Regions from separate parts of the Homo sapiens genome. Here all the other regions are linked to region 1. Evidence: fine-mapped expression QTL. A gene starts in region 1. Each other region holds a variant in brackets. All regions are shown on one strand. Distances are between the middles of the regions.

Evidence for each region.
Region 2: its variant is fine-mapped to the expression of NTSR1 in whole blood (TOPMed, PIP above 0.99).
Region 3: its variant is fine-mapped to the expression of NTSR1 in whole blood (TOPMed, PIP above 0.99).
Region 4: its variant is fine-mapped to the expression of NTSR1 in whole blood (TOPMed, PIP 0.96).

What each region holds. Positions count from the first base shown.
Region 1 is chr20:62,704,745-62,712,523 of GRCh38, forward strand. It overlaps NTSR1 (neurotensin receptor 1), which reads left to right and starts at 4,092. Exons shown (of 4, transcript NM_002531.3): 1 at 4,092-5,177. The coding sequence starts at 4,464. RefSeq lists enhancers at 3,056-3,569, 3,570-4,082, 4,292-4,838, 4,839-5,383.
Region 2 is chr20:62,731,477-62,739,255 of GRCh38, forward strand. All of the region lies in intron 1 of NTSR1 (neurotensin receptor 1), which reads left to right. NTSR1-AS1 (NTSR1 antisense RNA 1) reads right to left here and starts at 3,883. Exons shown (of 2, transcript NR_199009.1): 1 at 3,750-3,883; 2 at 1-1,706. RefSeq lists an enhancer at 3,307-4,152. The variant C/A (reference allele first, on the strand shown) is at 3,345.
Region 3 is chr20:62,740,270-62,748,048 of GRCh38, forward strand. The region is part of intron 1 of NTSR1 (neurotensin receptor 1); the gene reads left to right. Among named protein-coding and RNA genes, the nearest start is that of NTSR1-AS1, 8.8 kb to the left of the region's middle. RefSeq lists enhancers at 1-690, 1-299. The variant G/A (reference allele first, on the strand shown) is at 3,537.
Region 4 is chr20:62,767,688-62,775,466 of GRCh38, forward strand. It overlaps LINC00659 (long intergenic non-protein coding RNA 659), which reads right to left. Exons shown (of 3, transcript NR_046225.1): 2 at 7,628-7,699; 3 at 6,434-6,882. Among named protein-coding and RNA genes, the nearest start is that of LINC00659, 5.3 kb to the right of the region's middle. RefSeq lists an enhancer at 1,246-1,977. The variant G/A (reference allele first, on the strand shown) is at 3,673.

The DNA.
Region 1 (7,779 bases):
AGCACAGCCCCCAGAATCTGCCAACAGCCCCAGAGATGCCTGGAGCGCAGCCAGCGTGAGGCTGGAAAGCGGCTCCGCCCTCCTTGCCCGCCTGCGAACACTCACTGTGCGTACACATGTGCAGGTGCCGCTCTGTTTTTAAAGATCCTCCTTCGAACACCGTCCGTCCTGGAACACGTGCAATTTCCATGCTGTGGGTGGGAAAATCTATAGCCAGGCTCTACCGATTATGTTTATTACGTATCTTCTGTGCCTCTAACACATCCACGTTTCTGCCCCACCCGCCTTCGTCCTCATAGGAAACCAACTACTCTGCCACTGACATAATAAATGCCTGTTGTTTTAAGCCACTGAGTGTGGGGGCATTTCGTTATGCAGCAATAGATAACTGATTCAGGTGTTATTGTCAACTTAATTTTTTCAATTTTAATAAGAAGCCTTCCTGCTAGCAAGAGTCACCCAACAGCGGTTGGGGGCCTGAGGGAAGAGAAGGTTGGAGGCTGGAGAGATGGTGGCTCTCCTACATTTGGAAGCCTGAAGCCTGCTGCAAACCAGTGACGGGTTTCGCACATCCTGCTGGCATGGCCTCATCCTGTTCACCATTGCATCTGCTCCACTAGTGCAACACAAACCCAGTGAGCGCCAACTGAGCGTTGGAGGGACTCAGGGTAAGCTAGCCAATGAAACAAGCAGGGACCCCCACCCGTGCCGGGCAGTGTTGGAGGGACTCAGGGTAAGCTAGCCAATGAAACAAGCAGGGACCCCCACCCTTGGGAGCGTGCTTCCAAGGACCTCTTGTGTGGTGACTCTTTGGACGTGATTGTCACCCCAGGCACAGATGACTACCTTGCTTGGTAATAAGGACATGCCTCGCTCACACCACTCAGGAAATCACAGAAAGCCAGGCTGTCCCCAGCACACTGGCTGCCCCAGCTCAGCACGCCTGCTGCACCCTAGAATCACAGCCGTGCCCGTGGACCTCGGTCCTCGCTGCCCATGGGACCGGCCGGCTCCTCAACAGGCAGCATTGGGAGTGTTGGGATCGGGGCAGCAGGTCCCCAAGGCTCTCCAACTTGCAGGAGACACTCGCCCCCGGAGCCCTGCCCCCCACAAGGCGTGCCCGACTTCACGTGTCAGTGAAGGCATCCGGCTGGCCAAGGGTGTGGCTGCATCCCCAATGGGCATGACCGGACCTGGCCTGTCCCTTCCCAAGCACCTCACCGGCACTTTCTTTAAAGAGTCTCAGCTGTTTAGGAAGGGCTTCTGTCTGCAGAAATCAGAAGAGAAAGGGGCAAACAACGTGGAGTTAAGAGCTTCCAGCCGCTGAGCCATCCGGTTTGTGAGTGCACAGAAGAGCTCAGAACGGCCGAGCGGCGTGGCTGCCAGGGGTCCCCACCGGAGGCCTGCCATCTGCCTTGTGTAGAACAAGGCCTTCCAAGTGACATTTTCCTATGTGGTTTTAAGCAAATGCTCCAACACAATATTTGCACTATGTTGCCTTTTATGATTTTGTAAGCTCCCAGGCCAACTCACAGATAAATCTTTGAAAATAAGGGCAGCTTAGCCAAAAGGTCAGGGGTTTAAAAACCAAACAATGAGCTTAGGCAGAGGGAGAGCACAATCGCTGCATCCTCCTGCTTTGGCTGGCAGAGGGACAGACTCCAGTGGCCATTGCTGTGGACTTCCTCTTTGTGGGGGTCTCGACAGAGGCGCCTGATGGCCCAGCCCGTGGTCAGGCCCCAGTGTTACCAAGACAGTGGTGAGCGCCTGGACCTCACACTGTCCAGCACCTGTACTCCCTGGCATGGTGTGGATGCTAAGGTCCCCGCCCAAACCTCTGTACTTGGCCGGGCGCAGTGGCTCACGCCAGCAATCCCAGCACTTTGGGAGGCCAAGGCGGGTGGATCACGAAGTCAGGAGATGGAGACCATCCTGGCTAACATGGTGAAATCCTGTCTCTACTAAAAATACAAAAAAATTAGCGCCTGTAGTCCCAGCTATTCGGGAGGCTGAGGCAGGAAAATGGCGAGAACCTGGGAGGCGGAGCTTGCAGTGAGCCAAGATCGCGCCACTGCCCTCGAGCCTGGGTGACAGAGCGAGACTCCATCTCAACAAATAAAAAAAATAAAAAAATAAAAAAACCTGTGTACTTAACTGGTGAATCGTGTCTTCCAGAGGACAAATCTGGCCTACTCCAGCCTATTCTAGTTGGATGGAACACCTCACCTCACACCCGACAGCCCATTCGACCTCGTTCATTCCCCGTGGAGACCCATCAGTAACAGCCCTGCCCTTCATTCAGCCGCTATTCCCATTTTACAGACGACTCAATCGAGGCACAGAGACGCTAAGCACACTCGCCCAAATGTGAAGTAGCAGGGCCAACATTCAATCCTATCTACTGGCTTCCAGCAAAGGGATCACTGGCGTTTCCTTTGATGCCAAGATTTCTAAGCTCTGATGTTTGTGAGCTGCAGCCCCCTGACAAGAGTATCAGGCTCCGGTTGAACAGAGAAGTCCAAAGCAGGGCGAGAACGGACGAATAATCACAGAGTCCCGCTGCCAGCCACCGGCTCAGAAGCCTTGAATTCTCCTAGCTGGGCGGGCCCGGGAGGGGGTTCCTCAGCCTCCCGCTTCCCTCAACACCCTGCGACCCCCGCCCCAGCCTGCCCAGGTTTCCTGCTCCCAGCACAGCAGGTGCAGCCAGCCATGTGCACAAAGGCCAGGCTGGTTCCCTGGGCTGCACTCGAGCAGCTCCTCCCAGCCCTGCACACATGGGGCAGCAGCTCTACCCAACCTCTCCCAGGGGTTCTGGGGAGGAGGGAGCAGGGGAGGGGGCGGGGAGGGCCCAGAGAAGGGACAGTAGTGCCCTGGGGGCCCCTGGGCAACCCAGACATGGAGGGGGGGGCAAGCTTGTGCCTGGCCACCTATGCCAGTGCCACCAGGTGCTGGGGGGGACACGGAAAGGACAGGAATCTTGCCCTCACCTGGCTCCCGAGCCAGGGGCCGGGGCACCCTGTGAGGACACTCAGAGGGAGGGAGTGTGCAAAGCCTGCAGGGCCTGGGAGGATGCGTGCTGGGGCTGCCTCTCCCAAATCCTGCTGGGGCGCAGGCTCTCAGGGTGGCTTCTGATGACAAATCCAGGCAGTAATAAGGGGCCCAGGGCATCACATCCCATAGCGTCATGAGACCAGCCCAGGGTGCCAGATGCAGGGCCCTGAGTGGGGAGGGTGCTGCTCTGGGCACCTGCTTTCTGCCCTCCCTCATTCACCCCTCCCCAGACTTTGATGAAACCATCTGTGGCTCCCGGCCTCTGCAGGACCCAGCCCCTCAGCTCCTCAGCCCCTGCAGGTGTCCCTCGGTACTGCCTCACGCCATCCTGCCCCAGGTGATAACTATGCCCTGAGCCCCCACCATTTCCACTGGGCACATCCCAGAAATACGCATTCACAGACCAGGCACGCCCATGACTGCGGCCAGATTTTAAAAGGAATCACCAGAAATGTAATCTCCAGTGGTCCTAGAGCCCCCTGGGCACCCAGCTTCTGGCACCCTGTGGACACCCAGGAGTGGGGGTCGGCCCAACCAGCTGCGCAGCCGCCCAGCCCTGCCAGCGGGGAGCTTCCTCCCTCCCTGCCCTCCGGATACACCCTCACCCCAACTGAGCGAGCCCAGGGTTGGGGGAGGTGCATAGTTCCCTTCCTAGCCGGTGCGAGAAATTGCGGAGAACAGGGAAGAGGGTGGCAGGAAGGGTCTGGTGCACGATACCCGCCGCGCCCGCTCGGAATCCTGGTTCCCTGGAGCGCTCACCCCAGCCCGCCCTGCCCCGGGGAGCGCGAGGGGGCGACCCGCCAGGCTGCACCCGGGCGGGGCGGGGATGGCGGCGGGGGCTGCCTCCCTCCTCCGCCGCCACCCCCCACTGCTGGGCGCGCCGCGCGGCCGCCGGCTCCGTGGAGACGCGCAGAGCCGGGAGGGCGCGGGCGCGGCGGGAGGTGTGCGGGGCTGGGGTGCGCGGAGAGCGCGAGGGAGGAGATTCTGAGCGAGGGAGGGGAGCGCGCCCGGGCAGCAGTGCGTGCGCTCCTCCCGGCGCCACAAGCTCGCCCCGCGCAGCCCGAGCCGGGCTGGGCGCTGTCCTCGGGGGCCTGGGGAACCGCGCGGTTTGGAGATCGGAGGCACCTGGAACCCGTGGCAAGCGCCGAGCCGGGAGACAGCCCGAGGAACCACGGGTTCTGGAGCTAGGAGCCGGAAGCTGGGAGTCCGGAGGAGAGCGGAGCCCGGAGCCCGGAGCCCGGGGCGGCGCGTCTGGGTCTGGCGCTTCCCGACTGGACGGCGCGCCCGCTGGTCTTCGCCACGCGCCCTCCCCTGGGCTCCCGTTCATCGGTCCCCGCCTGAGACGCGCCCACTCCTGCCCGGACTTCCAGCCCCGGAGGCGCCGGACAGAGCCGCGGACTCCAGCGCCCACCATGCGCCTCAACAGCTCCGCGCCGGGAACCCCGGGCACGCCGGCCGCCGACCCCTTCCAGCGGGCGCAGGCCGGACTGGAGGAGGCGCTGCTGGCCCCGGGCTTCGGCAACGCTTCGGGCAACGCGTCGGAGCGCGTCCTGGCGGCACCCAGCAGCGAGCTGGACGTGAACACCGACATCTACTCCAAGGTGCTGGTGACCGCCGTGTACCTGGCGCTCTTCGTGGTGGGCACGGTGGGCAACACGGTGACGGCGTTCACGCTGGCGCGGAAGAAGTCGCTGCAGAGCCTGCAGAGCACGGTGCATTACCACCTGGGCAGCCTGGCGCTGTCCGACCTGCTCACCCTGCTGCTGGCCATGCCCGTGGAGCTGTACAACTTCATCTGGGTGCACCACCCCTGGGCCTTCGGCGACGCCGGCTGCCGCGGCTACTACTTCCTGCGCGACGCCTGCACCTACGCCACGGCCCTCAACGTGGCCAGCCTGAGTGTGGAGCGCTACCTGGCCATCTGCCACCCCTTCAAGGCCAAGACCCTCATGTCCCGAAGCCGCACCAAGAAGTTCATCAGCGCCATCTGGCTCGCCTCGGCCCTGCTGGCGGTGCCTATGCTGTTCACCATGGGCGAGCAGAACCGCAGCGCCGACGGCCAGCACGCCGGCGGCCTGGTGTGCACCCCCACCATCCACACTGCCACCGTCAAGGTCGTCATACAGGTGAGCCTCAGTAACCAGCCCCGGGGCTCCCCTCTCCTTCACCCCAAAAGCAGTGCCAGTGGTGTGCCTTCTGGGTAGGGAGTGGGAGAGATGTCACAGAGACAGTCTACTCCTGCGAGGCTGGGAAGGCGGTTGGGGCAGCTTGGGGGCAGCTCCAGAGTTGCCAGGCTCAGCCCCTATCTTCTTCCCTCCTGTTGAGGGGATGGAGCCCCTGCCTGTGACCTCTCTGGTGTTGGTGGCTGGGCCTCGGACATCTCTGAATTCCTTAAGCCTAATGGAAACATGTGCGCTGGCACCTGCGTCTCCAAAGGAAGAGTAACACTTTCATCAGCTTCTCAAAAGACTGTGCCACCAACAGGTGATGTTCCTTCCTCTGCAGAGAAGCCCCCAGACTGGCTCTGCCGGTGCCTCCCAGCTGCCTGCCCTGACCCAAACTTGGGAGTCAGAACAGAACCTGATGCCGTGTTGGGCCAGTTCCTAGTTTAGCCTCAGCTTTCCCATCTGTGTGATGGGGTAGTGATAGCATTGACCTCAGAAGGTAGAGCATTGGAGAGAGGACGCGTGGGAAGTGTTTGCATGGCCCCTGACACATAGAAGGGCTCACAGGCACTATTATTGCGGGATGGTGGGGACGATGTTTCTGCGGGGAAGGTTGTGAGGATCTGCGTGTGGCGGCGGTGTTGTGGTGAGGTGTGTAAAACTGGAGCCGAGTGACTAAGGGCCCTCCAAGGGTCTGAGCAAAGCGCCGTGGGAATGCGGGTGGGAAGCCCCCTTGGGAATCAGTTTGGCTGAGGTTCGTGGCACGGGGGGTTCCAGTGCTGGAGGGGAGGGCTGATCAAACCAAAGCCCCGAGCAGGAGGCTGGTGTCCAGGGAGGAAGTCAGGGCCGGTCGGGAACTTTGAAAGGCATCTTGGAAATGAGCAGCCTTAGAAGTGTGGGGTTTCCTCCATTTCTGGTGGGCTAAGGAAGCCAGAGGGTGAAGGATCCGGGCAGAGTCGCCTACCTCTGCCCAGCTAGAGGGGCCAGGGTGGCTGGCTGTCCCCCCAACTCCCCACACACCAGCATCGCCAGCCTCCCAGCTAAGCTTCTGTAGTTGCCTGGGCACCCCGCGTATGCCAGTATGCCCGGTGGGGGTGAGGGCAGCAGTGCCGGGCAGGGGGTCACCTGTCTGTCACTCCCTGGGCCCTAACTGACCCTCCACTGGCCACCACCCAGGTGGGCTGGGGGGTGGAGGAGGGTAGAACTGAGCTCCCAGTCTCCCTGGCTGCACATAGAACTGGTGGCTACAGGTGTCCCATCTCGGGGAGGCCCCTCCCACAGACACTGGTGGCAGGCAGTGAGTCAGGGCTGCTTTGCTTCTGCGGCGAGAGTCCCTCCCCTCACCAGAGGCAGAAGTAGGCACGGCCTGTGGGGTAAACACAGTGAGAAATGACCTCTCCCTCCCTTTGAGGCTTTATCTGCTCTCCCCAAGCTCCTGTCTTTGATTGGCATTGGCCAGGGGGAACCTCTCCCCAGTCCGCGTGGAGGGGCCCCAGGGGCGACAGCCACTCAGTCCTTCAGAAGGTGGGCAGTGGAGGGGTCAGCGCTGTCACTGCCCACCCAGGAGATGCCCCCACTCAGACCCCGGATCCCCCCACTCAGACCCCCGATCCCCCCGCTCAGATCCCCGATCCCCCCGCTCAGAACCCCGATCCCCCTGCTCCCCTGGCAAAAGGCCAGGAGCTCACCAGCCTCCTGCAGTCCTCAAAAACAAACAGCCGAAAAGCACAGGGGCGTGAGGACAGCTCGGCTCCGCCCCCCGGAAAGTGTCCTCCCCGCGTGCGTGGGCTCTCTGCCAGGTACTTGGGATTGGGCACCTGGGGGACATCACTTTGCCTCCCAAAGCACCACCTGCCCAGCCTTGTTGCTCAGAGGCTGCGAGGCAGATTTGGCCAAGTCACGCTACGGCCGGCCACAGGCACTCGTCCAATCGCAGAGGCCTGTGACGTATCAACCGTAGGACAGCGGCCCCACGCCCTGCAGACGCCATGCTGGCCGAGCGTTGCTGAAGGCACCCTTGGAGAACGTAGTTTCCATTTTTCTTTAAAGGGCTCAGCTGCGTGCCTGGGAGCAGCTGATTACAAGGGTGCTCCTCCATCCGATGCTGATGACCTGGGGCTTTCCAGGGCCCCGATGCCAGCTGCTCTGTGTGCTTGAAAAGAACATTCCTCGTAGGAGAGGCCTTGGCTTCCCCTGACCCCTGCCCCGCCATTTGCCATTTTATGAAAGGTTTCCCCGGAATTAGGGGGTTTACGGTCCCCACGTGGGCTTCTGGGCCATTGGCAGATCTGGGCAAACATCCACGGTTTTCAGATGGTGATGTCTGGCTGAAGAGGGGCTGGATACCCTGAGCTAAGTGTCTCCCTCTCAGTGACCATGTTTGGAAGTGTTGGGGCAGTGGCCAATCAAATGGCCCCTCTTTCCAAAACAGGGGTCCTTTCCTGCCCCAGCGTCTCCTACGAAATTTTGGCCTGGGCACTTGCAAACAGAAATTGTGTTTAGAAATGAGGTGGTTCAGTGATAACACTTTGGAGCAACTTACAATAATCCTCCCTGAAGCCAG
Region 2 (7,779 bases), 27 kb after region 1:
AAGATACCTAGATTTTATACCCAAGATACCTAGATTTTATTACCTAGAAATTTTATTATCTTGTATTTTATATTAAATAAAATGTGTTATTATCTATAAATTGTATTATCTTGCATTTTATATTAAGGTCTGTGAGGCCTTTTGAGTTAATTATCCTGAAAGGTATAAGACCCATTTTTTTCTACATGTGGATGTCAGTTGTTCCAGCACCATCTGTTGAAAGACAGTCTTTTCAACATCAATAACTTTTGCTTCTTTCTCAAAGATCATTTGCCCATGCATGTGTCCGTCCACTTCTGGGCTCTCTTTTCTGTTCCATTGGAATATTTGTCTGTTCTTTAGCCACGATTACACTTTACTGGCTGGGTGTGGTGGCTCACGCCTGTAATCCCAGCACTTTGGGAGGCCGAGGCGGGTGGATCACTTGAGGTCAGGAGTTCGAGGCCAGTCTGGCCAATATAGTGAAACCCCCATCTCTACTAAAAATACAAAAATTAGCCAGGTATGGTGGCAGGTGCCTGAAATCCCAAGTACTCAAGAGGCTGAGGCAGGAGAATCACTTGAACCCAGGAGGCAGAGGCTGCAGTGAGCCAAGATTGTGTCACCATACTCCAGCCTGGGCGACAGAGTGAGACTCCATTTCAAAAAAAAAAAAAAAATTACACTGTACCGATAACTGGGGCTTTATAGCAAGTGTTGAAATCGGTAGTGTCCATCCTGTGAACTCACAGTATGACGTTAAATAGGAGTGAGGATAGGGGGCCTCCCTGCCTCCTTCCCTATCTTAGGAAGAAAAGCTTCAGGTTTGTCACCATTGAGTATGACATGGGCTGTAGGTTTTTAGTAGATGTTCTCTACCAAGCTGAGGGAGTTCCCTTGTATTCCTGGCTTGTGAAAGGTTTTTCTCACAGATGGGTGTTGGGTTTTGGAAAATAGTTCCTGTTGCCATGATGGATTTCGATAATCTGTTTCCGAACCCTGGAGCAGCCTCGCATGCCTGGAATAAATCCTGTGCTGTCTAATTCTTACCATGTAGCGCTGCATGAGATTCGCTGCTATTTGTGTAATTCTTAGTATGTGGTGCTGGTTGGGAAATCCTGTGGTGTATAATTCTTAGTATGTGATGCTGGATTTGCTGCTGTTTTGTTGAGGGTTTTTGCATCTGTGTTCATGAGACATCCTGGTCTGCGTTTTCCTTTCTTGTAACATCCTCGGTTTTGTTATTGGGGTAATGCCGGCCTCGTAGAGTGAGTTATAAAGTGTTCCTCTGCTTCTATTTCCTGGAAGAGACTGTAGAGAGTATCTATCATCTGTTCCTTAAATGCAAGGTAGAATTCTAAGTCCGTGTCCCTGCGTGGCTCCAGGCACGCTGGTTCCCCATCTGACCCTCCGCTTGCTTTTCCTCGGGCTCTCCCTGCCTGGGCCTGGAGGACCACAGCGGGCACAGGGGGCGGCTCAGGCTGAGAACCAACGGCGCTGACGTCGCCTAAAGGGGGTTCCCAGCTGGCAGCCTCCAGGTGCTGGAATGTTTCTCGGTGAGAAGCCGCCACGGGAGTCTGTGGACTTGTCACATCACCCGCAGGCGTGGCCCTGAGGCCACGTATCCAAGCAGCAGTGCCGTGCATATTCATGTCGGCATTGGACTTGCAAATTCTGAGTGAAGTAAATGTCATCGGCAGTGTGTAGACGTTCTTTCGGAAGAAGATCTGTCAGAGAAAATGCAAGCTGATTACCAGCCTAACAGAGAAATGTGCATCCCGGTCCCCGCAGGGCCACCCTGGAGGCACCTCTGCACCTCCCAGGCACAGCTCTGGGAAGGCTGAAAATTAGCACCAATTAGGGAAGAATGAAGCTCTTGGTTCCCTCCTGAAGCACTTGGTTGAAGCTTGCTGCGCTCCTTTCCGGGAGCAAATGAGCATCTCTCGGGACAGTTGTGTTTCCCTTGGGCAGGGAGCCACTGGCAGCTCCCCAGTGGGAATCGTGCCTTCTAGTCCAGATTTCCACTTTGGAAAGGGAAGGTTCTAGAAAGTTCTGGAAAGCTCGGCTGTGGCTGACTCCTGGCTTAGGGCTCAGGCCTGTCTCACCTAGCAATGCAGGGTGAGCCATGTGGGCTGGCTTCTGGGGATGGGGAGGAGAGATACACACATGGAGAAAAAGAGGGAGATAGAGAAGAGAGAGGGAGAGAGAAAAGGAAAGAGAGGAGAGAGGGAAAGGCAGAGAGAGAAACAGAGGGAGAAACACAAAGAGAGGGAGAGAAGGAGAGAGAGACACAGAGAGAAAGGGAGGAACAGAGGAGAGAGAGGGGAGGAGGGGGAGGGAGACAGCACCCTCTTCTCCCTACCCTTGCCTGGGGTCTCAGCTGAGAGAGGGAAGGCTCTGTGCTGGGGAAGAGGCCTCCAGCAGGGAGTAGTGACTGATGAATGTATGATTGCTACTTTATCTCAATAGAGGATTCGAACAGCCCCCAGGCAGGGTCGCATTTTAAATGATGGTTTTGGGTGCTGAGCCAGCCCAGCTTGGAGGGGGTTTCGTTTCACAGATGAGGAGCCTGAGGCTGGGGGAAGCCACTTGCTCAGATGCACACGGCTGGGGCCGGCGGCAGGTTTGCCCGACCTCGAGTCTGCGCTTCTCATCCTGGAAGCGACCGCCTTGTCCCCTGCGCAGCCTCCTTCTCTGGCTCAGCCACGTGGGTTACTACTGAGTTCACTCTTCAGCCCTGGTGGGGGACGGGCAAGAGATGGGGCGTGAGGGGCGGGCGGAGGCAGCGAGGTCTGGGATGAGAGCTTTTCTGGAGCCTTCTCTGGAGTGTGACCCCCTTCCCCGCAAAAAAAAAAAAAAATCTTGGCTCAGCTCTTGGGCTTCGGTGCAGTAGGGGCTTTGTGGCCGATGCAGAGGAAGCCGAGCTCTGCTCCTGGAAGGACGTGGCCCCTTGTCTTACCCAGGCTTCATTTTGGGGCCATCTTTTTAGGTGGTTGAAAATGAGTAACTCATTCTTGACCTTGTGCAATGCCCACGCCCTGTGTCCGGGGCTGACCTGGAGGCTCTGGGTTCTCTGCTGAGCAGAGCTGGGGCCAAGACCACCCCTGGGGAGCGAGGAGCAGGCGCTGGTGTGCCTGGCCCAGGTGGCTTCCCATAAAAGCTGCAGGCAGCCCTGTCTAATGTGGCAGCCCTGGGCCACACGTGGCCACTGGGCATTGAGACATGGCTGGTCTGAGTGAAGATGAGCTTCAGCCTGAAATCCGCACCGGGTTTTAGAGTTAATGCGGAAAGGCGGTATACAATAGCTCACTAATACCGTTGCAAGTTGATATGATATTTTGAATACATTAAGTTAAATAAGATAT[C/A]GTATTAAAATTATCATAGCTGTTTCCTTCCACTTTTGTAACATAGCTACTGGTACATTTAAGCCTCACGTGGCCTGCATCCTATTTCCACGGGACTGTGCTGCCCGAGCCCCTCCCTGCTGATGAGAAGCAGCCCTCGGGTGGCTTTGGGGTGTGTCCAGAGCCTGTACAGCCTCCCCTTGGGGTGGGGTGCCGCGTGCGGGGTGCCAGGCACCAGCCGGTGCTGAGGCCCCATGTGGAGGCAGCCCTGCATGATGGGCAGCAACCAGTGGGGTGCCATCGTGTGCGGTGACGTGCACACTAAAGAAAGACGCTCAGCTCCCTCCTCTGCCCCGCCTGGCCGCCAGCTCAGTGCCAAAACCATGGTTAGGGGGTGGGAGGCCACGGGTGCCCTTGGGGACCTACCAGGCCTGCAGGGTCCTTGGCAGAGGGGCAGTGCCTGGCACCAGGAGGACACTGTGCTGGAAGGTCAGCCTGTTCCCACAGCCAGGGATGTGGGGCTCCCAGGTAGCCCCATTCATAGTTATTTGAATTGCTGTGATGGAGGCAGGCGGAAGAGGTGGGACTGCGAGGGAAGGCAGGGGCCCCCCGGGGAGAGAGTGGGTGCCTCCTTCCCTTTCCTCAAAGCCCAACGGCCTTGCAGTGAGACTGCCACTATACAACAAAGAGCCAGCACCGCTGTGCACGCTGGAGTCTCACAGATGAGCCGATTATGTCTTTGTGACAAACACATTATTAGGAGTGAGATGAATTCCTTCTGTGGGCGGGGATGATTCAGAGAGAGGCGTCCCAGCCCCAGGAACAGCCTCCCCGCAAGGTGGCCTCAGCCTCCCCCATGCTCCCCTGGAGGCCGCTCCCTGGCTTGGGGGGTGGGTAACACGGGAGTCCCCCCGACACGGCGAGGTGAGCTCACCTCCTGAGGCTGGCGTGCAGGGAAGTAGGAAAGGGCACACACTGCGACCGGGGACCAGGGACAGGGTCTTCCCCGCTGTGACCTGTGGGGCTGTGCAGGGGGCGGGAGCAGCCCCCATCCCAAAAGGAAATGGGACAGGAGTTGCCAAGAACAGTTCCCCTTACCCTCCAATTCCTCACGGGTTCAGCACTTTCTCTGAGGGGGTCTGGTCTGAATCCCAAATTCAGATTCTGTATTCAACTGTTCCCTTCATTACAAAGAACAAATTTCCGAGCCCAGTAATTCCCGTTTAAATTTGTCAATTTTCATCCCTCGATAGAAATCAGTATGTGGTGATCACAAAAGCCGGGGTATTAGCCCAGTGGACAGTTTGTTCTGAAACTTGTCCCTTCGGGGCAGGGCCTGGGTTAGGAGGCCTGAGATCTGCCTGGAGCCTGGGGTGCCTCGGGCAGGGGCATCGTGGCTGGGGATTCTCTGCACTTGCCCCATGGAGCAGGGCGGGAAGGGAAGCCAGGCTCCTTTCCCTGTCTGGGTCTGGGGCTGCTGCCCTTGGCAGCTGGGGAGACCCTGGGACCCCAGAGGCAGAGCCCCACTCTCTGTACCCTCAGGCGCAATGCCCTGAAAGACAGGCGCCACTTTGTCTTCAGAAAGGCAGGAACCAAACCCCTCTCACAGTTCCAGAAGCTTCCCTGAGTCCCAGTTTAGACGCAGAATCTCCTCTGTGGATCACTCCAACTGGGGAACCAGGAGAGGGGGTTTGGGAGAGGAGGGAAGTGGCTTCCACCTGTGGGTGGGGCAAAGAGAGGGCTCCCAGCTATGCAGGGCGGGCCCAAACCTCCAGCAGAGCCCCTTTCCCAGCGAGGACTCCGAGGACTCCGAGGCCCTGGCCTGTGGCTCCCAGGGAACAACCTGGACCCTCAGCATAGGACCCGCAAGCTGAGACCCTCCTCTGTTTTACTGCTTCATTTTCCATCTGTGACCAGGGCCCAGGCCACATGCACACACCTGGCGTAGGAGTTACTTCGTGATGTGTTTGGCTGTGTCCCCACCCAAAATCTCATGGGAATTGTAATCCCCATAATGCCCCGTGTCAAGGGCAGGACCAGGGGGAGGTGACTGGATCGTGGGGGCGGTTCCCCCAGGCAGTTCTTGTGAGAGTGAATCTCATGAGATCTGATGGTTTTAGAAGCGTCTGGCGTTTGCCCTGCTGTCACTCACACCGTCCTGCTGCCCAGTGAAGAAAGTGCCTGCTTCTCCCTCCACCATGATTGTAGGTCTCCTGAGGCTCCCCCAGCCCTGCAGAACTGTGAGTCAATTCAACCTCTTTCCTTTATAAACTACACAGTCTCGGCAGTTCTTTAGAGCAGTGCGAAAATGGACTCACACACTTGGCCTGGGCCCAGTCTTTCCCGGATGGATGGTGCGATGATCAGCCCCGTGTTCGTGAGGACGGGGCCAACCCAGACCCACCTGGAGTTGTAAAGTTTCATCAGCACTCAGCCCCACCTGCTCATGTACGTACTGCTATGGCTGTGTTGGCCACAGCGGCCACAGTGAGTGGTTCTGCTCAAAAGTTGAGATCCTCCGGCCCACGAAGCCACAGTGACTCACTCTCTGGACCTTCACAGAAAGCATTCACCCACCCCACCCTAGGATGCGTGTCCAGAGGTGAAATGGCTCCCTCCGTGCAGTCGGAGAGCCCCTTGACTCACGGCTGCACCCCTGCTCATCAGGCACAGCGGCAGGCACGTGACCTCTGTGGGGCCACTTGTCCTACTTGCAGGGAGGGGCCGAGCATGGGATGCAGCATCCACGCCTGCACTTAAACGAGCCCTCTGTGGCCTTGCCCCACTCGGCCTGAGGAGAGCCTGGAGAGAGATGCCGTCCCTGCCTGGGCGCTGCGATCCTCCTTCCTTCCCACCTGCTCTCGTCCCCACATCTGCCCATCGCCAGGTCCAGCCCCGGATGCAGGCCACACCTGGGTCCCTCCCTGGCCCCACCCCTGAGAGCAAACCCAGAATGCAGTTGTGGCTGCAGCGGCCTCCTGCTTTACCTCCTGCTGCTGCTTCCCACTTCTGAGCTGCTCCAAGTCCAGGATTGATGACCTGACCCCTGCCCCCGGTCCTCCCCACCCCCCACACCCCTGCACCACCTCACACACTCTTACCTCCTTCCTCCTGGCCCACAGATGCCCTTCAGCCCTGCAGCCTCTGCGTAAAGCTCCCTCCTCTGGAAAATGGCCCCTTATCTCCCCCAGACCACGCTGCATGCCCCCTGGTCCTCCGCAACAGCCGCATCCCTTTCCCTGCAGTGCCCATCTGCCCACGTCTGCCCCCCTCCCCCTCCTCTGCCTATGCCAGGTGCCTTGGATGCATCAGGTGCACCGTCAGGGCTTTTGAAGGCTCCACGAGGCGGGCCTGGGCACGCAGTGCACGCAGAGGGTGATGGAGGGTGCTAGATGGCCGGCCTGGATGAACCCAGGTGCACGCAGAGGGTGACGGAGGGTGCTAGATGGCCGGCCTGGATGAACCCAGGGACAGGGACAGACAAGGCAGGTGCAGCCACTGAGTTCTGGAACATTCCAAGAAGAGTCAGGCAAACTACTCCCTGCTCAGGTCTGCAGCCCGGCTTGGGGAGAAGCCTGCAGCTGTGGGGTCAGCCTCCCAGCTGCCAGCAGTAATAGCCCGAGCCATGGGGAGGCCTCGTTTCCTAAAAAGGCCTCAGCTGCCGCTGCGTTCCTGCAGGGTGGAAGGACAGGCTGATGACCACCAGCGAAGTATCATGAAAATCTCCCGGCGAGCCTATGAGCCGTACATTTGTCTCTCTCTAGAGACAGGCTTCTCCTGGAGCCAATCAGCCCTCTGGCTTTCATGGGCTCCTACCTTGCAAGGTGGCCACAGGCCTCAGCCGTGCCTGTGTTGGCAGGGAGCCCTGTGCACTGCCTCTCTTCTGCCCGCGGGGTTAGCATGGCAGGAACCCGGGCTGGAGGCTGGGAACACGTCCAGGCTCACGCTGGTCCTCGAGGTGGCTCCAGCCTTGCTGCTCTTGGCAGCAGAGATGGCGGAGGGTCTAGGTCTCAGGCCAGAGATCTCCAAAATGGACCAGCCCATCCCCTTCCATCATGAGGAGGAGACAGGGCCAGCACGAGAAGGGAAATATGCTCAGGGTCACTCAGCGAGGCCAAAATCCTGGGCTGCCTTGTTCTTGACTCTAGGATCTAGAAATGGGAAAGCTGGGACTTGTCGCCTCCCCAGTGATCTATCTTTTACACACGCGTGTTTTCATGCACTGAGCCATTCATAAAACAGAAAAGCCAAGCCTCCTCACTGTTGTAAAGGAAAGCCCTGCGTGGCTGTGAGGGAGACGCGTGTGGAACCTCATGTCGTGTGGCGCCGTTGGGGACCCGTTGGGCTCTTGAGACTGAACCGGGACAGGCTGAGAGGCTCTCCAGGACACTTCCGGGCAGCAGGCCCCCTCTGGCTGTGCTTGACCCTGGCCCCTGGGCCCTCTTGGTTCACCAAG
Region 3 (7,779 bases), 36 kb after region 1:
CAGCCATAGGGTGAGCGGCAGGCAGATCTTACAAGCCGTGCAGGCCGGAAGGAAAAGGGTTGTGGGGCTCATTCTTAGTCATAGGGTGAGCGGCAGGCAGATCTTATAAGCCGCACAGGCCGGAAGGAAAAGGGTTGTGGGGCTCATTCTTAGTCATAGGGTGAGCGGCAGGCAGATCTTACAAGCCGTGCAGGCCGGAGGGAAAAGGGTTGTGGGGCTCATTCTTAGTCATAGGGTGAGCGGGAGACAGATCTTACAAGCCGTGCAGGCGGGAGGGAAAAGGGTTGTGCCGACAGTCTGAGGGTGGAGACCAGAGCTGTGGACTCGAGCCCAGGGGAGCCCCCACCTGGCCACGGTTTCCTCATCTGAGAAACAGGAGTGCGAGGCCCTACCAGGGATCCTTCCCGCTCAGATCCCCAGAGAGGTGGGGGCCGTGACCGGGGCCAGAATTCCACCCCTCACTCACTGCTCTGCGCAGCCTCCTGGGCTTGTCAAGAGTTTTTAAAGCCCTGTCGTGCTTCCCAGCAGATGCCTTGTGGGTGTGAGCATTCTCATGGGCTTGAAGCTGGCAGATATTTGAAAACATGGCAGAGACCTGCAGCCCGCAGCCTCAACCGCTGGCTGTCACCTGCCGCTGCCTGTGATTTACTCTTGAGAAGTGCTGGAGCAGCTGAAAAGCAACTCGCCACCCCAGCACTGCCCTCAGAGTGACTAATGGGGCACACTGGGGTTCTGGGCCCCGGCCAGGCTCAGCGAGGGGAGGGCCGTTCCCGGGGCTGAGGGCCAGGGGCCTCCCCTCCTCCTGTCCTGGAGGGCACCTGCCCAGCACAGGTAGAGGAGGCAAGGGTGTCAGGAAGGCTCTTTCCCTAATCTGACTAAGGCCCTCTGGGCTAAGTCAGGGGTCTCCCGGCAGCCAGGCTGCTAAGTCAGGGGTCTCCCGGCAGCCAGGCTGCTGCCAGTCCCGCAGCTCAGCCGGGCACAGACAGGATGTGGCTTCCAGGGGCTTCTGTTCTGCCAAGTCCCCACTCAGACAATGGCCTCTATAGCTCCAGCAATCAGGAGGGAAAAGATTCCAACTCCCACACTCAGGGCTCCCTGCTGCCTGGAAGAGGAGAGGAGGGCAAACCTCTTGCAGAGGTGACGGGTGACTCACCAGCCCCGCTCAGAGGACGGGTCTGCAGGTGGCCAGAGTTCTCCTGATGGGGTCCTTGCCCCCAGCTGGCTTGGGGGTCCCTACACCGGCCCCCTGCCCCACACCATGTTCCTCCCACCCCATGTCTGTGCGCCCCTTCGAGCATGCCTGGGCATTGTCCATGGTACTGAACCCCTGAGGCTCCCTGGGGCTCTGGCATTCTCTTGAGCCTTTCCCAGAAATTCCAAACCAGAAGAAAAGTGCAGGGAACAGAGTGGAGGAGCCATGGACAGAGGCTGTGGGGCAGGCTCAGTCCCTGAGAGGTCGCCAAGGAGCCACAGCCTTGGACTAGATGCTCTCAAAACCTGGCAATGGCCCACAGAAGGCATCTGCTCAGGTGAGGTACATGCCACAAAGCTTCACCAGTGGGGATGAGGATCTGCTCATAGGATGGCCCCTGATGGAGGAAGTGGGAGCTCAGGCTGTGGGATCAGGCCCCTGGGTTCACAACTGTGCCTGGGTTTCTTTATCTACAAAAGGAGCCTGACAGGAGCCTCTGCCTCACAGATGAGACCTGTGTGCCTGAGGTGGTGCACACAGAGTATGTGTAGACCCCAGGACAGTCGATGTCAGCTAGAAAGTGAAGGTTAGAGGAATTCAAACCGTTATTTTTAATACTGAGCCAAAACCTGCACATCAGAGCTCTCTGATGGAGGCGTGGACGGGGTCGTGAGGGGCCAAGTACTAGCCAGAAGCTGCGCCGTCCATTTCATCCCCTCCCCACAGTGGTCCCACAGACACCGAGGTGGCTGACATGGCCCCTCCAGGTCACACGCCTGTTCTCTCTCCAGTCCTGCCCTCAGGGACTCAGAAATGCTGGCGTTCCAGGAGGTGGTGTGTGGGCTCCTCCTCAGGCCAGGTCTGTGGTCACTGCTGACCACGCGGCAATGTACGGCTTTCCAGGCCCCCATCCACCATGAGTCAGGCGTGTCCCCACTGGGCAGCAAGTCCCACAGCTTTGCATTCCAGATCCCAGCAGCATCTCGAGCCGGGCCTGGTACTGCTTAGATGCCTGGGAGGGAGGACCGAGGAAAGAGACTGGGGACTGAGGGACAGCACAGTATCCCAAGCTGGCCACTACCAGAACCTTCTAGAACAAGGTCACACTGGCAGTTCTTTATGCCTTCCGTCCTCTGCTCCCCAGACACCTGTTTACACAGGGCCCTAGGTCTCAGGTGTCCTGTGGGTGGCCGCTGCTTTTCCCTGGGTCCCTCCATGGTGTCTCCTCTGAGGACAGCCACTGGTCAGAGCCTCCTGGATGACCTCACTCCTGGAAAGCGCTGGGCTGTGTCACCTTAAAGACCCCTTTGCTCTCTTGGCCCTGGCACCCCACCTCTGGCATGGGGAGCAGAGACCCACCAGGGTTCCCATCCCTCTCCCCGCAGTGTTTCCCCAGTTCCAGGGCTGTGAGGTGGTCACAGTGGCTCTGGTGTGGCCGTGGGGTTCCTGTTCATCCCAGGGCACCTGTCACGGGACATACCCACAGCACAGGCAAGTGGAACGTTCTCTGAGTTTAGCTTTGTTTGTGTAGGTAGTTCACTGTGGGAGTCTAGCTTTTGGGGGACACACCTGAGACCCTCCCAGCTACCCTGCCCTCTCCCCAGATCAGCTCGGTAGGCTCCAATCCAGAGAGTCAGGCTGGGAGGGGAGCACGGAGCCGCCCCTGCTGGACACGTATCCCGGCCATCTCAGGCCCACCCATTGCCTCATTGCTCCCTGCCCCCGGTCCAGTCAGCTGAGTGCCCCGTGGTGTGGGTGCGTCATGCCATGGCGACCAGCCCCAAAGGGTGAGCCTTTGAGTTGTTCACCAATCATTGGGGTTTCGAACAAGCCTGTGCTGACGGCCCTGGCACACAGGGTTTCTGAATTAACTCTGCCATCGTTCCTGGCCTCAGCTGTGGTGGGGAAGGCAGTTCGGGGTCATGAGAACCCTGAGGGTTGCTCCCAAGTCAGTGTTTGCTGGGTCTAGTGGGGGCCTCTCCACCTGGAGTCTGTCTGGGAGGTTAGAAAAGACCGTCCGTGAGCCTGGGCCCTGCTGGGGCTGGTCATCTGCTCAGGGAGAGGGCGATCCCCTGCCAGCCCAGCAAGGCCACCCCAGCGGTCACCCCCTTGGGAGGGTGTGGACAGGAGCCTCCCCTCCCACCCGCCCCGCAGCCTCTGCAGCCATCTTACAAAGCCTCTGGGTTCTGCAAAGCAAAAGGGTTTTGCACCTTCCCACTCAGCACAGGCTGGCTGCGGAGCCGGGAAGCAGTGTGCCAGTCTGGGGCTGTCTCTTGATCTAAACACAATGGGATGAATTAGAGAGAAAGGCAGAATACAAAACAAGCAATTGCTCTCGAAGAGC[G/A]AGGTGAGAACGCCCTGCCTGAGGTCGAGGGGCTGAGGCCGGCTGTCTGGAGCCTGTGTCGGGGGCACCCTCCTGCTGTCTGGCTGTGCCCTCACCTGTGGGCAGGCATACCGTGTGCACCCCTCCCGCTCCCCACCTGGTCTCCACGGCCAAGCTCAGACCAACCACCCAGAGGCTGCGCCCCGGTCCAGATCCCCCTAACACACCTGCTGTTTCATTATCTAACCTTTCACTCCACCTCCGTCCTCCCCATCAAAATTACACATGCGAGGGGGCAGAGGCCAGGCTGTCCCTCCCATAGGTCCAGCCCCACCAGCCGTCGCCCCAGCGTGTCCCATCCCAGCCTCCCAAGCCGCAGTCCTGTGCCCCCCAATTTGCTTCCTTTCCCACACCCAAGGGAGCACAGTCAGTGCTCCAGGAACTGAGGCAGCACCTCTAGGCTCGCTCTTTTAGAAATGAGGCTGAGGGGCTGGACGCAGTGGCTCGTGTTTGTAATCCCAGCACTTTGGGAGGCCGAGGTGGGCGGGTCATGAGGTCAGGAGATCGAGACCATCCTGGCTAACATGGTGAAACCCTGTCTCTACTAAAAATACAAAAAAATTAGCCAGGCATGGCGGCGTGCACCTGTAGTCCCAGCTACTGGGGAGACTGAGGCAGGAGAATGGCGTGAACCCGGGAGGTGGAGCTTGCAATGAGCTGAGATCACACCACTGCACTCCAGCCTGGGTGACAGAACAAGACTCCGTCTCAAAAAAAAAAAAAAATACAAAATTAGCCAGGCATGGTGGCACATGCCTGTAATCCCAGCTACTCAGGAAGGCTGAGGCAGGAGAATCACTTGAACCTGGGAGACGGAGGTTGTGATAAGCAGAAATCGCGCCACTGCACTCCAGCCTGGGCAACAAGAGCAAAGCTCAGTCTCACAAAAAAAAAAGAGAGAAATGAGCCTGAGGCCCAGGAGGACCTGCCGAGCTCACAGCTGGCCAGGGAACAAGCCAGGCCCCCACTTCTGGCACCAAACCCCAGGCATTCGGCTGCTTCTGAGAGGCTTGAGGCCCTACCAACCACTCAAACGCCATTCCCAGACCCAGACAGGGCTAGGAGGCAAGGGGTAGCAGCTGAGGGGTGCACACAGCAGAGGATACTGCCAGAAGCACGAATGAGATTCCCATGGAGGCAGCCCCACCTCCAGACCACCACGGCTGTCACAGCAGACACCCCTGTCTCCCACCATGACCTTCTGCTCTGGAACATCCACCCCTAAAACCTCAGACCCAGCCACTGAGGCCCATGGCCCAGAGCCCAGCTACCCAGCCGGCTCCAGGGAGGGTGGCCCAGCCAGTTCCTGCCACCTGAGGATGTTGGTACACACACCAGACTCAGAGGGAGACCCAGACAGACAGCAACACAAAGACAGAGAGAGAGACACAGAGAGGAAAGCAGAGACACAGAGAGACATGGAGAGAGACACAGAGACAGAGAAACAGACACATAGAGGAAAACAGACACAGGGAGACACAGAGACAGAGATACAGAGACACAAGAAAACAGAGACAGAGATAGAGACAGAGACACAGAGATATAGAGATAGAGACACAGACTCAGGAAAACAGACAGAGAGAGACACAGGAGAACAGAGACACAGAGATACAGAGATAGAGACACAGGAACAACAGAGACACACAGACAGAGACAGACACAGGAAAACAGTGAAAGACAGAGACACAGAGGAAAACACACAGATATACAGAGAGAGACACAACAGAGACAGACACAGGAAGGAAAACATACAAGGAGACAGAGACACAGAAAAACACAGAGAAAAACACAGAGACATCACAGGAGAAAGATACAAAGACAGACAGAGACACATATTCTGCCTCGCCTCCAAATCCAGCTTGGCGTGGACCTCGCTGGGACTGGATGGCCTTCTCTACAGCTGCTGAACAGCCTCGCCGTCCCCAGGGCTTCCCTGCTGTTGGCCATGACCCTCCCCTGCTGCTTGGAATTGCAAAGCCAGGCGGTCTGGGAGTCCCAGCCACCACGCGTCCCCCAGAATATTCATGGGGCTGGGCCAGGTGACTCCCTGCTCTCTTTAGAGACAAATCGAAAGGCGCCAGGGTGCTGTGGCATCAGTGGCGCTGAGGCATCCTCTGGCCGGCCCTGCATGGCCTTCAAGCTGCTTGAGTCCATTGGACAAAGTCCCTCAAGGCCACCCTATGTGGCCAGGGCTGAGACGCCTAGAGAGGTAGACGCTCAGCCTGGGCAGGGACGGGGGCCACACTAGCAGAGGTCAGAGAAGGGGTCAGCCAGGGGGAAGGTCAAGGCTGCCGCCCGGCGGGTCACCACCAGGCCCCCACACTACCCCAGCCTGGCCGTCTGCTTCCTGTTCAGTTCTCACCCCCTGAGTTCTCAGGTCTGTGAGTTTGCTGGACCGTCTGCCAGGAGAGCTTAGGGTCCCTGTAGGCTTGTGGGTGCCATCAGGTCAGAGATGAGAAGTCACCTCCAAGCAGAGGCCTTCCCGGAACCCCCAGCACTACTGCAGCCAGGCTGCCGCCAGCATCGCTGTGTCTGTAGCTCTTATTGGCCCTGAAGTCACTGCAGGTGGTTCTTTCAGTGGTCTCTCCTCCCCAGGATCCAAGACCTCTGACGGCAGGGGCTCCTATGGCTTCTCCAAGGCAGTGATGTTTGTGGGAGGGAGGAAGGGAGAAAGGTGGAGGGAAGCTAGACTAACCAAGAAAAAAGAGAGAAGACATAGCTAAAATCAGATATGAAAGAGGAGACTTTACAAGATGCCACAGAAATCAAAAGGATCATAATAAACTGTGAACAATTTTATACAAACCAGCTGGACAGCCTGGAAAAAATGGATACATTCCTAGAAACTCACAAGCTTCCTAGAGTCAATCGCGAGAAATGGAAAATCTGAAAGGACCAATAACAAAGAAGGAGATTGAATCAGTTACCAAAAACCTCCCAAAAAAGAAAACCCCAGGGCAGGGCCAGGTTGCTTCGCCGATGGATGCTACAAACATTTAAAGAAGAATTAACACCAGTCCTTATACAATTCCGAAAATGTGAAGAGGAAGGAACACTTTCTAACTCATCTTACAAGGTCAGCATTACCCTGATACCAAAGCCAGAGAAGGACGCTATGAGAAAAGAACCAAGAGGCAAAAATCTTCAACAAAATACTGGCAAACTTCATTCAACAGCATGTTGAAAGGCTCATCCACCATGAGCAGGTGGGATTTATCCCTGGGATGGAAACACAGTTCAGCACATATGAATCAGTAAATGTGATCCACCACATGAACAGAAGGAAGGACAAGAGCCATTTGATCATCTCATTTGATACAGAAAAAGCATTTGACAAAACTCAGCATCCTTTCATGATAAAAACACTCAACAAACTGGGTGTTGAATGCATGCTACACAATAAAGGCCACGTATGACAGACCCACAGCTAACACCACACTCAGTGTAAAGGCCACGTATGACAGACCCACAGCTAACACCACACTCAGTGTAAAGGCCACGTATGACAGACCCACAGCTAACACCACACTCAGTGTAAAGGCCACGTATGACAGACCCACAGCTAACACCACACTCAGTGTAAAGGCCACGTATGATGACAGACCCACAGCTAACACCACACTCAGTGTAAAGGCCACGTATGACAGTCCCACAGCTAACACCACACTCAGTGTAAAGGCCACGTATGACAGACCCACAGCTAACACCACACTCAGTGATAAGAAGTAGAAAGCTTTTTCTCTAAGGTCAGGCAAAGCAAGGATGCACTACTCAACATGGTCCTGGAAGGCCTAGCCAGAGCCATTAAGCAAGATAAAGCAGTAAAAGGCATTCACATCAGAAAGGAAGAAGTAAAATTGTCTCTGCAGATGACATGAACTTATGTATAGAAAACCCTAAAGACTCCACAAAAACAAAAACAAAAACAAAAAAAAACTGTTAGCACTAATAAACACATTCAATAAAGTTGCAGGACACAAAATTGGCATATGAAAATAAGTTGTGTTTCTATACACTAGCAATGAATTATCCCAAAAAGAAATCAAGAGGGCCAGGCGCAGTGGCTGACACCTGTAATCCCAGCAGTTTGGGAGCCCGAGGCGGGTGGATCACCTGAGGTCAGGGGTTTGAAACCAGCCTGGCCAACATGGCAAAGCCCAGTATCTACTAAAAATACAAAATTAGCTGGGCGTGGTGGTGTGTG
Region 4 (7,779 bases), 63 kb after region 1:
AAGGAAGGAAGGAAGGAAGGAAGGAAGGAAGGAAGAACCCAGCCACCATCTGCTTCTGAGCTGATGAGGCCCTCCCTCCCATCCCCACGGGAGGACACCCCCACAGGAGGACGAGAAGACACCCCCATGGCAGGACCCCCCTGAGGGCTGACAGCCCCACAGAAGTGCCTTCTGCGCCGGGTGTGTCCCTGCCTCATCCCCCTTCCCACCTCCCTGCCTCTGCCTCCATCTCACATAGCAGAGGGGTCCCCCAAACCCCCCTGCCCAGCCCCAAGCCACTAGGGCAGAGGCAGGGCCTTGTTGACAGCCAAACGCTGTCCTCTGGGGGACAAAGAAGAAAGCCCCTTTCCCAACCACAGGCCTCCAGTGCTCCTGCTGCCCCTGTTCCCTGTGTCTCCTGGGCAGGCAGATGGGCGGGCTCACGTCAGAACCACCAGGGAGCCTGTTCCAGACCAGTTTCCCAGGCCCCAGCTGAGCCCCAGGCGATCAGAAGGTAGGGTGGCCTGGGAATCTGCATGTTAACGACTTATCCAGGAGAGTCAGATGCGCCCTGGGGTGGGAGAGCCACCTCCCTATACCTTCCCATCCATCCATCCATCCATCCATCCATTCATTCATTCATCTGCTCAGTGCTCCTCGGGACCTGGCTGACTCGGCACCCCCCTGGCTGGCACAGAACGGAGGGTGTGGGGCTCTGCTGCCCCAGCCCCTGCAAGGAATTCTCACAACCCCCGTTCACTCCAGGGCATAGGAGATCACTGCACCCCAACCGGAGGAACACTGACATTGACGACAACATCATAGGAATGGAAATACAACCATGGAATTCCAGCTCAGTCATGGAGCGGGAGATCTGGGGACACTGGCCGGGCAGCCTGCCCCAGGCACCCCTGAACTCCAGTCCCCTGAAGCCAGAGCCCGGGTCAAGCCCCTCCCCACCCAGCAGGTCTGCCGAGCTCCGCCCTGTTCCAGCACAGAGACAGAAGCCCATCGGCTAGGAGGCCCACCCAGGAGGACAGTGCCGGCCCGTCGCCATCGCGAGGCAACAGGGGAGCTCTTGAGAGAGAATTCTATACACTCTAAATACCTCTGAAGGAAGAAAAACCAGCCACAGCCATTGAGACCTGAGCTTCCTGTATAGAAAATGTTCCCTCCTGCCTCCACCCTCTCTCCCAGCTCCCCAACTCCCTGCAATTATGACTGGAATTCCAGTTTTTATCAGAGCACCATGGAAACCATGGCCAGGCTGAATTTATGAAAGGAATGACGCCAAGCAGAGAGAGAACCGGTGAGGGGAAGGCAGGGAGCCAAGGCAGGGCAGGAGAGCAAGGCAGACGAGGAGGGGCTGGCACCCGCAGGGCGCCCGCAGCACGTGGTGAGTGGGCCCTCCCCAGCACACGTGCACGTATACACAGGCACCCCATGCACATGCACACAGCATGCACATGTGCCAGCGCATGCATACACACACAGACACACGTGTACACACAGGCACACTTGTGCACATACATGAACCCATGGGCACACACCCATGTACATGTGCCAGCACATGCATATACACACAGACACACATGTGTACACACAGGCACACTTGTGCACATACATGCACCCACATGCACACATTTACACTCAACTCACACACACACAGGCAAATGCATATACACATGCCTGCACGCACACACAGGCATGGCATGTGAACATGAGTGCACACACACAAGTGCTCACACCCGGGCACATTCAGCCTGCATAGGGCCTCCCATCTCACCAGGAAGGGCTCGTTCCTTGGGTCTGTGAGACCAGCCGCTTCTCATCCTGCCAGGCCAACTAACCAGGTGACTAGCAGAGCCACTGGGGACACCCCCAGCCAGGCCCAGACCCCAGCCAATTACCCAGGGCCTGGAGCAAGGCCCTGTCAGCTCAACCCCCATCATCTGACCTGGTTCAAGGCCCATGGCCACCGAGAGCCAGTCTGCAGCTGGGCAAAAGGGCAGGTGCCGGAGCCCTCAGGGTCAGCAGCTGTGTCTAGAGCTCGCTGGACAAAGGCTAGGCCAGGCACACTTCAGAAAGCACCTGCCTCCCACCCACTCTGGTCGGTCCCCCACCCCAGTCACTATGTGGCACTGAGGTCTCATCTCGGGCCCCAGTGCCAGGCTCTTGGCCAGCCCTGTCAGGATGGGGCAGAACCCTGGGGGTAGGGAGGGCCTGTGACTGGGCCACCACGCTGCAAGTACAGCAGTGAGAATGACCGCTAGGAAAGGACACTGGCGGCAATAGGGGGCTCTGCCCAGGGCTCTCTGCCTGGGCTGGGGCAGGCCGGCTATCAGGCAGTCGCACCCCCAGAGCGGCCTCGTTTGTTACCCCCACAGGCAGGAGTTGGATAAATACTCAGCCTCCTCCCCGCTCCAGGGGAGTCACTGGAGGGTGCTCAGCAGGGGCACTAAGCCATCAGCCCTTACAGGTGCATCCCCTTCCCTACTCCCTGTCTTCCTGGGTCACCTCCCAAAGAAATGAACAGCTTCCACATCAACCCTGGCCTCATTCTGCTTCCAGGGAGAGTCAGCCAAAAACATCAGGAGACAGCCATGGTGTAGGGAGCATGAGGACCGGGACCCAGGCACTGGCACGCCAGCCTGAGGACCGGGATCCAGACACCGGCACTCCAGCCTGAGGACTGGGACCCAAATGCCGGCACTCCAGCCTGAGGACCGGGACCCAGACCCAGACGCTGGCACTCCAGCCTGGACGCCCGCTCACCGGCATGCGCACGGGTGAATATGGAGGGAGGTGGGGGAACTAGGAAAGGAAGAGGAGGTCCCCTGGAGGGAAAGGCGTGGAAGCTGAGGCCTGGAGGGGGCAGATGGGAGGAATGTTCTGGGCAAAGGGGCAAGCTCCTGGACCTGTTGTTACCATGGCCAGGACTCCCCTCACCCAGCTGACAGCACAGCCCCACAGAGCCCCCAGGTGAGGGCCTCATCCCCATCCTCACACAGTCCCCAGGGAGGGTCCCCCCTCACAGAGTCCCCAGGTGAGGGCCTCATCCCCACAGAGTCCCCAGGGAGGGCCCCGCCTCACAGAGCCTCATGCCTGCAGACAGGGCCAGGTGAGGTGGACGTCTCTTGCACCTACACATCCTCGCGACAGGAGGATGCACGTCGTACAGATGGGGAAACAGGCTGGGAAAGGGAGTGTGACCTGCCCGTGATCCCAGAGGTGTGGCTACCAGAGCTGGAACTAAAACCGGAGCCCTTCACCAAATCCAGGTGTGACTCGAAGTCCTGAGTGCACAAAGATCACACGAGGACAGAGGCTCCTGGGCCTGCACAAACCACAGTTCCGGGCACCCCAGCTCCAGCCGGCCCGCACGCTCCACCAGGGCCTGTCCCCACACCTGCCCTGGGACAGAGGCTCTCACCCCATGCAGCCACGCAGAGAAAGACCACCCCCGATTCGCACCTGCAGAGGTGCCCAGGGGGGTCCCGCCTCCCCAGGGACAGCGAGTCACACCTGCCACCTCCCAGGGCAGTCACAATGCCAGCCCACAGGAGCCGCAGGAGCTTTGCCCTCCTAAAGATCATGTTGTTGGAAGACCAGAGCCTTCGGGGGCTTAGTTATGCTCTGAGGGTCCTAAAGCCACGTGAGGGTAGCTAAGGCCACCACAGTCCCCCACTCGGC[G/A]GGGGAGGGAGGGCAAGAATGACATTGAAGGTGGCAAACAAGGAAAAACAAGGAACGGGGTCTCTGCCCTCTCTCTCGGGGGCCCCTGACCTCTCTGGGGTCTCTGGCCTCTCACGGGGTCTCTGCTCTTTTGGGGGTCACTGGCCTCAGAGTTCTCTGCCCTCTGAGGAGTCTCTGCCCTCCTGGGGTCTCTGCCCTCTCCGGGTCTCTGCTCTCTTGGGATTGCTGCCCTCTGGGGGTCTCTGCTGTCTCGGGGTCTCTGCCCTCTCGGGGGTCTCTGTTCTGGGGGTGGTCTCTTCTGTCTCAGTGCCATGTCCCTGCCTTGCCTTTCTCCTCTCTGGTCGTCCTAGCTCCCAGGACCTAAGCTGGCCTTGGATGAACCCAGTACGGTGCCTCTCCTGCCTGTATCGGGGCATCCGGGCACTGCCAGCGTCCCATTACTGGACTCTGGTCAAGGAGCTTGGTGTGGATAACGGGAAGTTTTGGAAACTTCCCACCCTTCCCAGAGGGCTTAAAGGGACTGGGGCGAACGCCCAACCCAGCCACAGCCGTCCAGGGCTTTGTTTCTGACATGCCTTAAAAGGGGACAGAGTGGCCGCCGAGGGGACGGAGCCTGCCGTGTCCCGTGTGCAGCGGCGGACCACCAGGCAGAGCGCCAAGGGGAGTGTCCGGAGATCCAGCATGGGAAGAGCCCCCTGCCACTTCCAGCAAGGAGCACACAGGTGCATCCGTTCTTTCTGCCCCACACTTTCTAGGGACAGCAGGCCGAGCCCATGGTGTGCGCCGTCAGCATGGGCTCTGCAGCCTCCGACCCATGTGCGGCCTGCCCGGACCCTCGCTCCTCCGTGTGCGGCTCGCCTGGACCCTCGCTCCTTTGGGCCGTCACTCTCCCTACTTTGTAGACCTGGAATGCCATCCCTGCCCCAGCTCCACTGCCCATGGGTGGCCATCCAGCAGCCACGGTGGAGTACACGCTGCACTGTGGTGCCCAGGGGCCCTCTATCACGGCAGGACTCCCCAACGCGATGTCCCCGGGGTTCACTGCCCCAGCCCTCAGTGGCCTGCCTCTCTAGGCATTGCACTGGCAGAAGAAAATGTTCTCGTCCAAGCTCACAGCCACCAAGGTCACAGGCTACCAAGGTCATGGCCACCCACACCGGGCAGCTGACCTCCAGGATCATCCTCGGGAGATGCCCGCCTGGCCCCACCTGGCCGCCCTGCCCCATTTGCCCCATCACCCCACACCACTGCACTCCAGCCTGGGCGACAGAGCAAGACTCCGTCTCAAAAAAACAAAAGAAAAGAAAAGAGAAAAAGAACTCTATGTCCTCATTTCAAATGCAGGGAGAGTCTCTCGGTTTAAACCGTAAGTGCCCTTCCCAACTCGGCAGACCCGCCCCAGTGAAGAGCATTTTCATGACTTGGGAACAGGACACTCACCTTGCCACTAGGCAGGACTGTACTCACTGGCTCGGGGGGCGCCCAGGCAGGAGACAAAGCATTTTCCCATGGCATATGGATGGCTTCCGTGTGCTGCATGACTGGGCAGTGTGAGAAAAACGCAACCCCCAGTGACTGCTGTAGAGGACAATTCAGCCAAAAATCAAACTGCCACCGTCATCTGCTGAGACCTTGATTTCCCAGGGCCTGGTGGTGCTGAAATACTCAGAACATCCTGAATGAATGAATGTCCACTTCCTTCACCAGCTCTGTGCTGGGGAGGGGGCAGGGCCTGCGTCTGATCAGGAGCTCCTCCCCCGGGGACCAGCCTGGAACCCCTTATAGCGATCAGGAGACACAGGAGACACCCTGAATGACGACACTGAGCTCTTTCCAATCTCTTGCTTGTCCCAGCGAGTACAGTGAGCACATCTTTCCCTGTGCTCTGGGCAAACCCCTGCGGCAGCAGCTCCTACCGTGAAATTGGTGTTTCTGGGTCACAGGGTTTGTGCCTTTGTGATTTTGTTGCTATTGCCAAATACCCTCTGCAGAATTGTGCCAAGGCACCTCCCCACCAGCCTGAGCATTTGCAGTGAAACGCTTTAGCAATCCTGACATTTCTGCCAGCATATTCCACAGCATGCTCTCTTTGCCACATTAATCAACAGGAGCTCAGAGGAAAACTTGAACTTCAGGCTGAGCCATTTCCTGCAATCTGAAAAATGAACGTGGCCTTCGGACACAGGGTGGTCCCTTGCCAGGGACTGGATGGAACTGGTTCAATTCCCCGCTCCTGGGCTTCCTGGTGTGCAACGTGAGCCATGCTCACCCCAGGGTGGCTGGGAAAAAACGCCGGTCCGCTCTGAGCATTCGTTTCAGTGATGGCTGTTCTTGTTCACGTGAGATGTGCCAACTCTACAATACTAAACCGTTGGGAGAAGCTTCAAGGGGACAGCACCTGGGGAGGGGCAGTGGCGGGCTCCAGGTTGCCCAAGGCTGTCATGGAGAGGAGGAGACCCCAGTCCAGCCCAGCCTTGTGCCTGCAGTGGAGGTTCCAGTTGTGAAGGGGCTCCAAGTGCCTTGTTCATCCTTTGCTTGATAATGAACCACCTCTGCCAGGTGCCAGCTGTACTGTGCACCTGCAGCTCCACACCCTCTAGGCACCAGCCCCTCCACTCTTTGGCCTCTTCGACAGGGAACCCCGAGGGGACAGTGGAGCAGGCCTGGGGCTGTTCCAGGCAGCAGGGGGGCGCCTGGGTCAGCGTCCCCACCCGCTGCCCTCCCCGGCCTTCCAACTTGCTGTGTGCACATTAACAACATGGACGGTCTTTTTCTTTTATTATAAAAGTGATTCATTCTCTTGTGAAGATTTAAATATGAAAGAGTGGATCTCCGCTAATCCCACCCGGTGATGATAGCAGCCGACAGATGGGCGAGCATAGAGCTCAGACATTGCCAGCAGCGTCAGATCCTTATATATCCAGAGCACGGCTCACACGCCACCGCCCTGCTGGCTCTGTCAGCCGCATGGTCCTCCGCGACACCTGGGGCTCTCCCTCCTTCCTTTGTGTGCACAACCTCAAAGCCATTTTTTCCAGACTTGGCGTGAAGATGATTTTCTGACACGTTGATGCTTCTGAAGCACAAGGAGGGCCCTGTCTCCACGGTGTCCAAGCAGAGGCTGACATCCTTTCAGGAGGGAGGTGATTCGGGCGCAGCTGGGCTGGCGGGAGGCATGGAGGCTGAGTCCCCTTCCTCACTGCTCTCTACCTGGAGAAGAAACCACCAGACCATGAGGCCGAGCTGGGGAAAGTTCCGGGGGGCTGCTTGGGCTCTGTGCTCCCTCCACTGGGGCAGGCGGAGGGCCCTGCGTGCTCCTTCCAGGCAGGGGCTGAGGGGACTGTGGAAGCCACGACAGGGGTCTGTGTGAACAGAAGACCCAAGGACAAGGTGCCCCAGCACTCCCAGCCACTAGCAAGGACAGGCAATTTTCAAAACTTCTCCCCAAACTACAACCTCAGGAAAAGGGGTGGAGAAAACTCCTTTGACAGAGATTTGGTTTTCACCACCATGACAGGACAATGATGATGGATGGAAGCTGTGGCTGGGCGTGGGAAGGCTGAGTGTGCAAATGTGGGTGGAGTTCTGGGGCCCCGCCCCCGCCAGTCTTCCACTTGGTCCCTGTGAGGACCCACATGAGGGAAGTGTTGCTTCTGGCCTCAGAACCCAAGGCAGAGCAGGCTGGAGTCCCACCCCATGGATCACGAGCCCACGCTGTGACCCTGAGTCCTGGACATGCGCAGAGGGAGGGTGTGCACGAGCCCGGGAGCTCCTGTCTCTGTCTTAAGAGTGGAGCATGTCTTAAGAGCTGGCATGAGGATCAGAGGGTCCCTTCAGTGCGGCCTTCTAGAAGAACTACAGCAACCAGGCCCTCGCAGGGGGGAGATGCACCTGCTGGGGCTAAGGAGCGAGTGAAGCCAGCCCCTGAGACACATGCTCCCAACCCCATCCTCACCTCCCAAGAGAGGGGGAGCCTCCTGTTAAGCATCCAAGTCCCAAGTCACCGGCCGGCATCGGCTGCAGCTCTCTGTGTGTGGAGACATCTCATTCTGGTGTCTTCTTTACACAGGTCAGCGCTCACAGGCTCGGCTGTGTCTCAAGACCCAA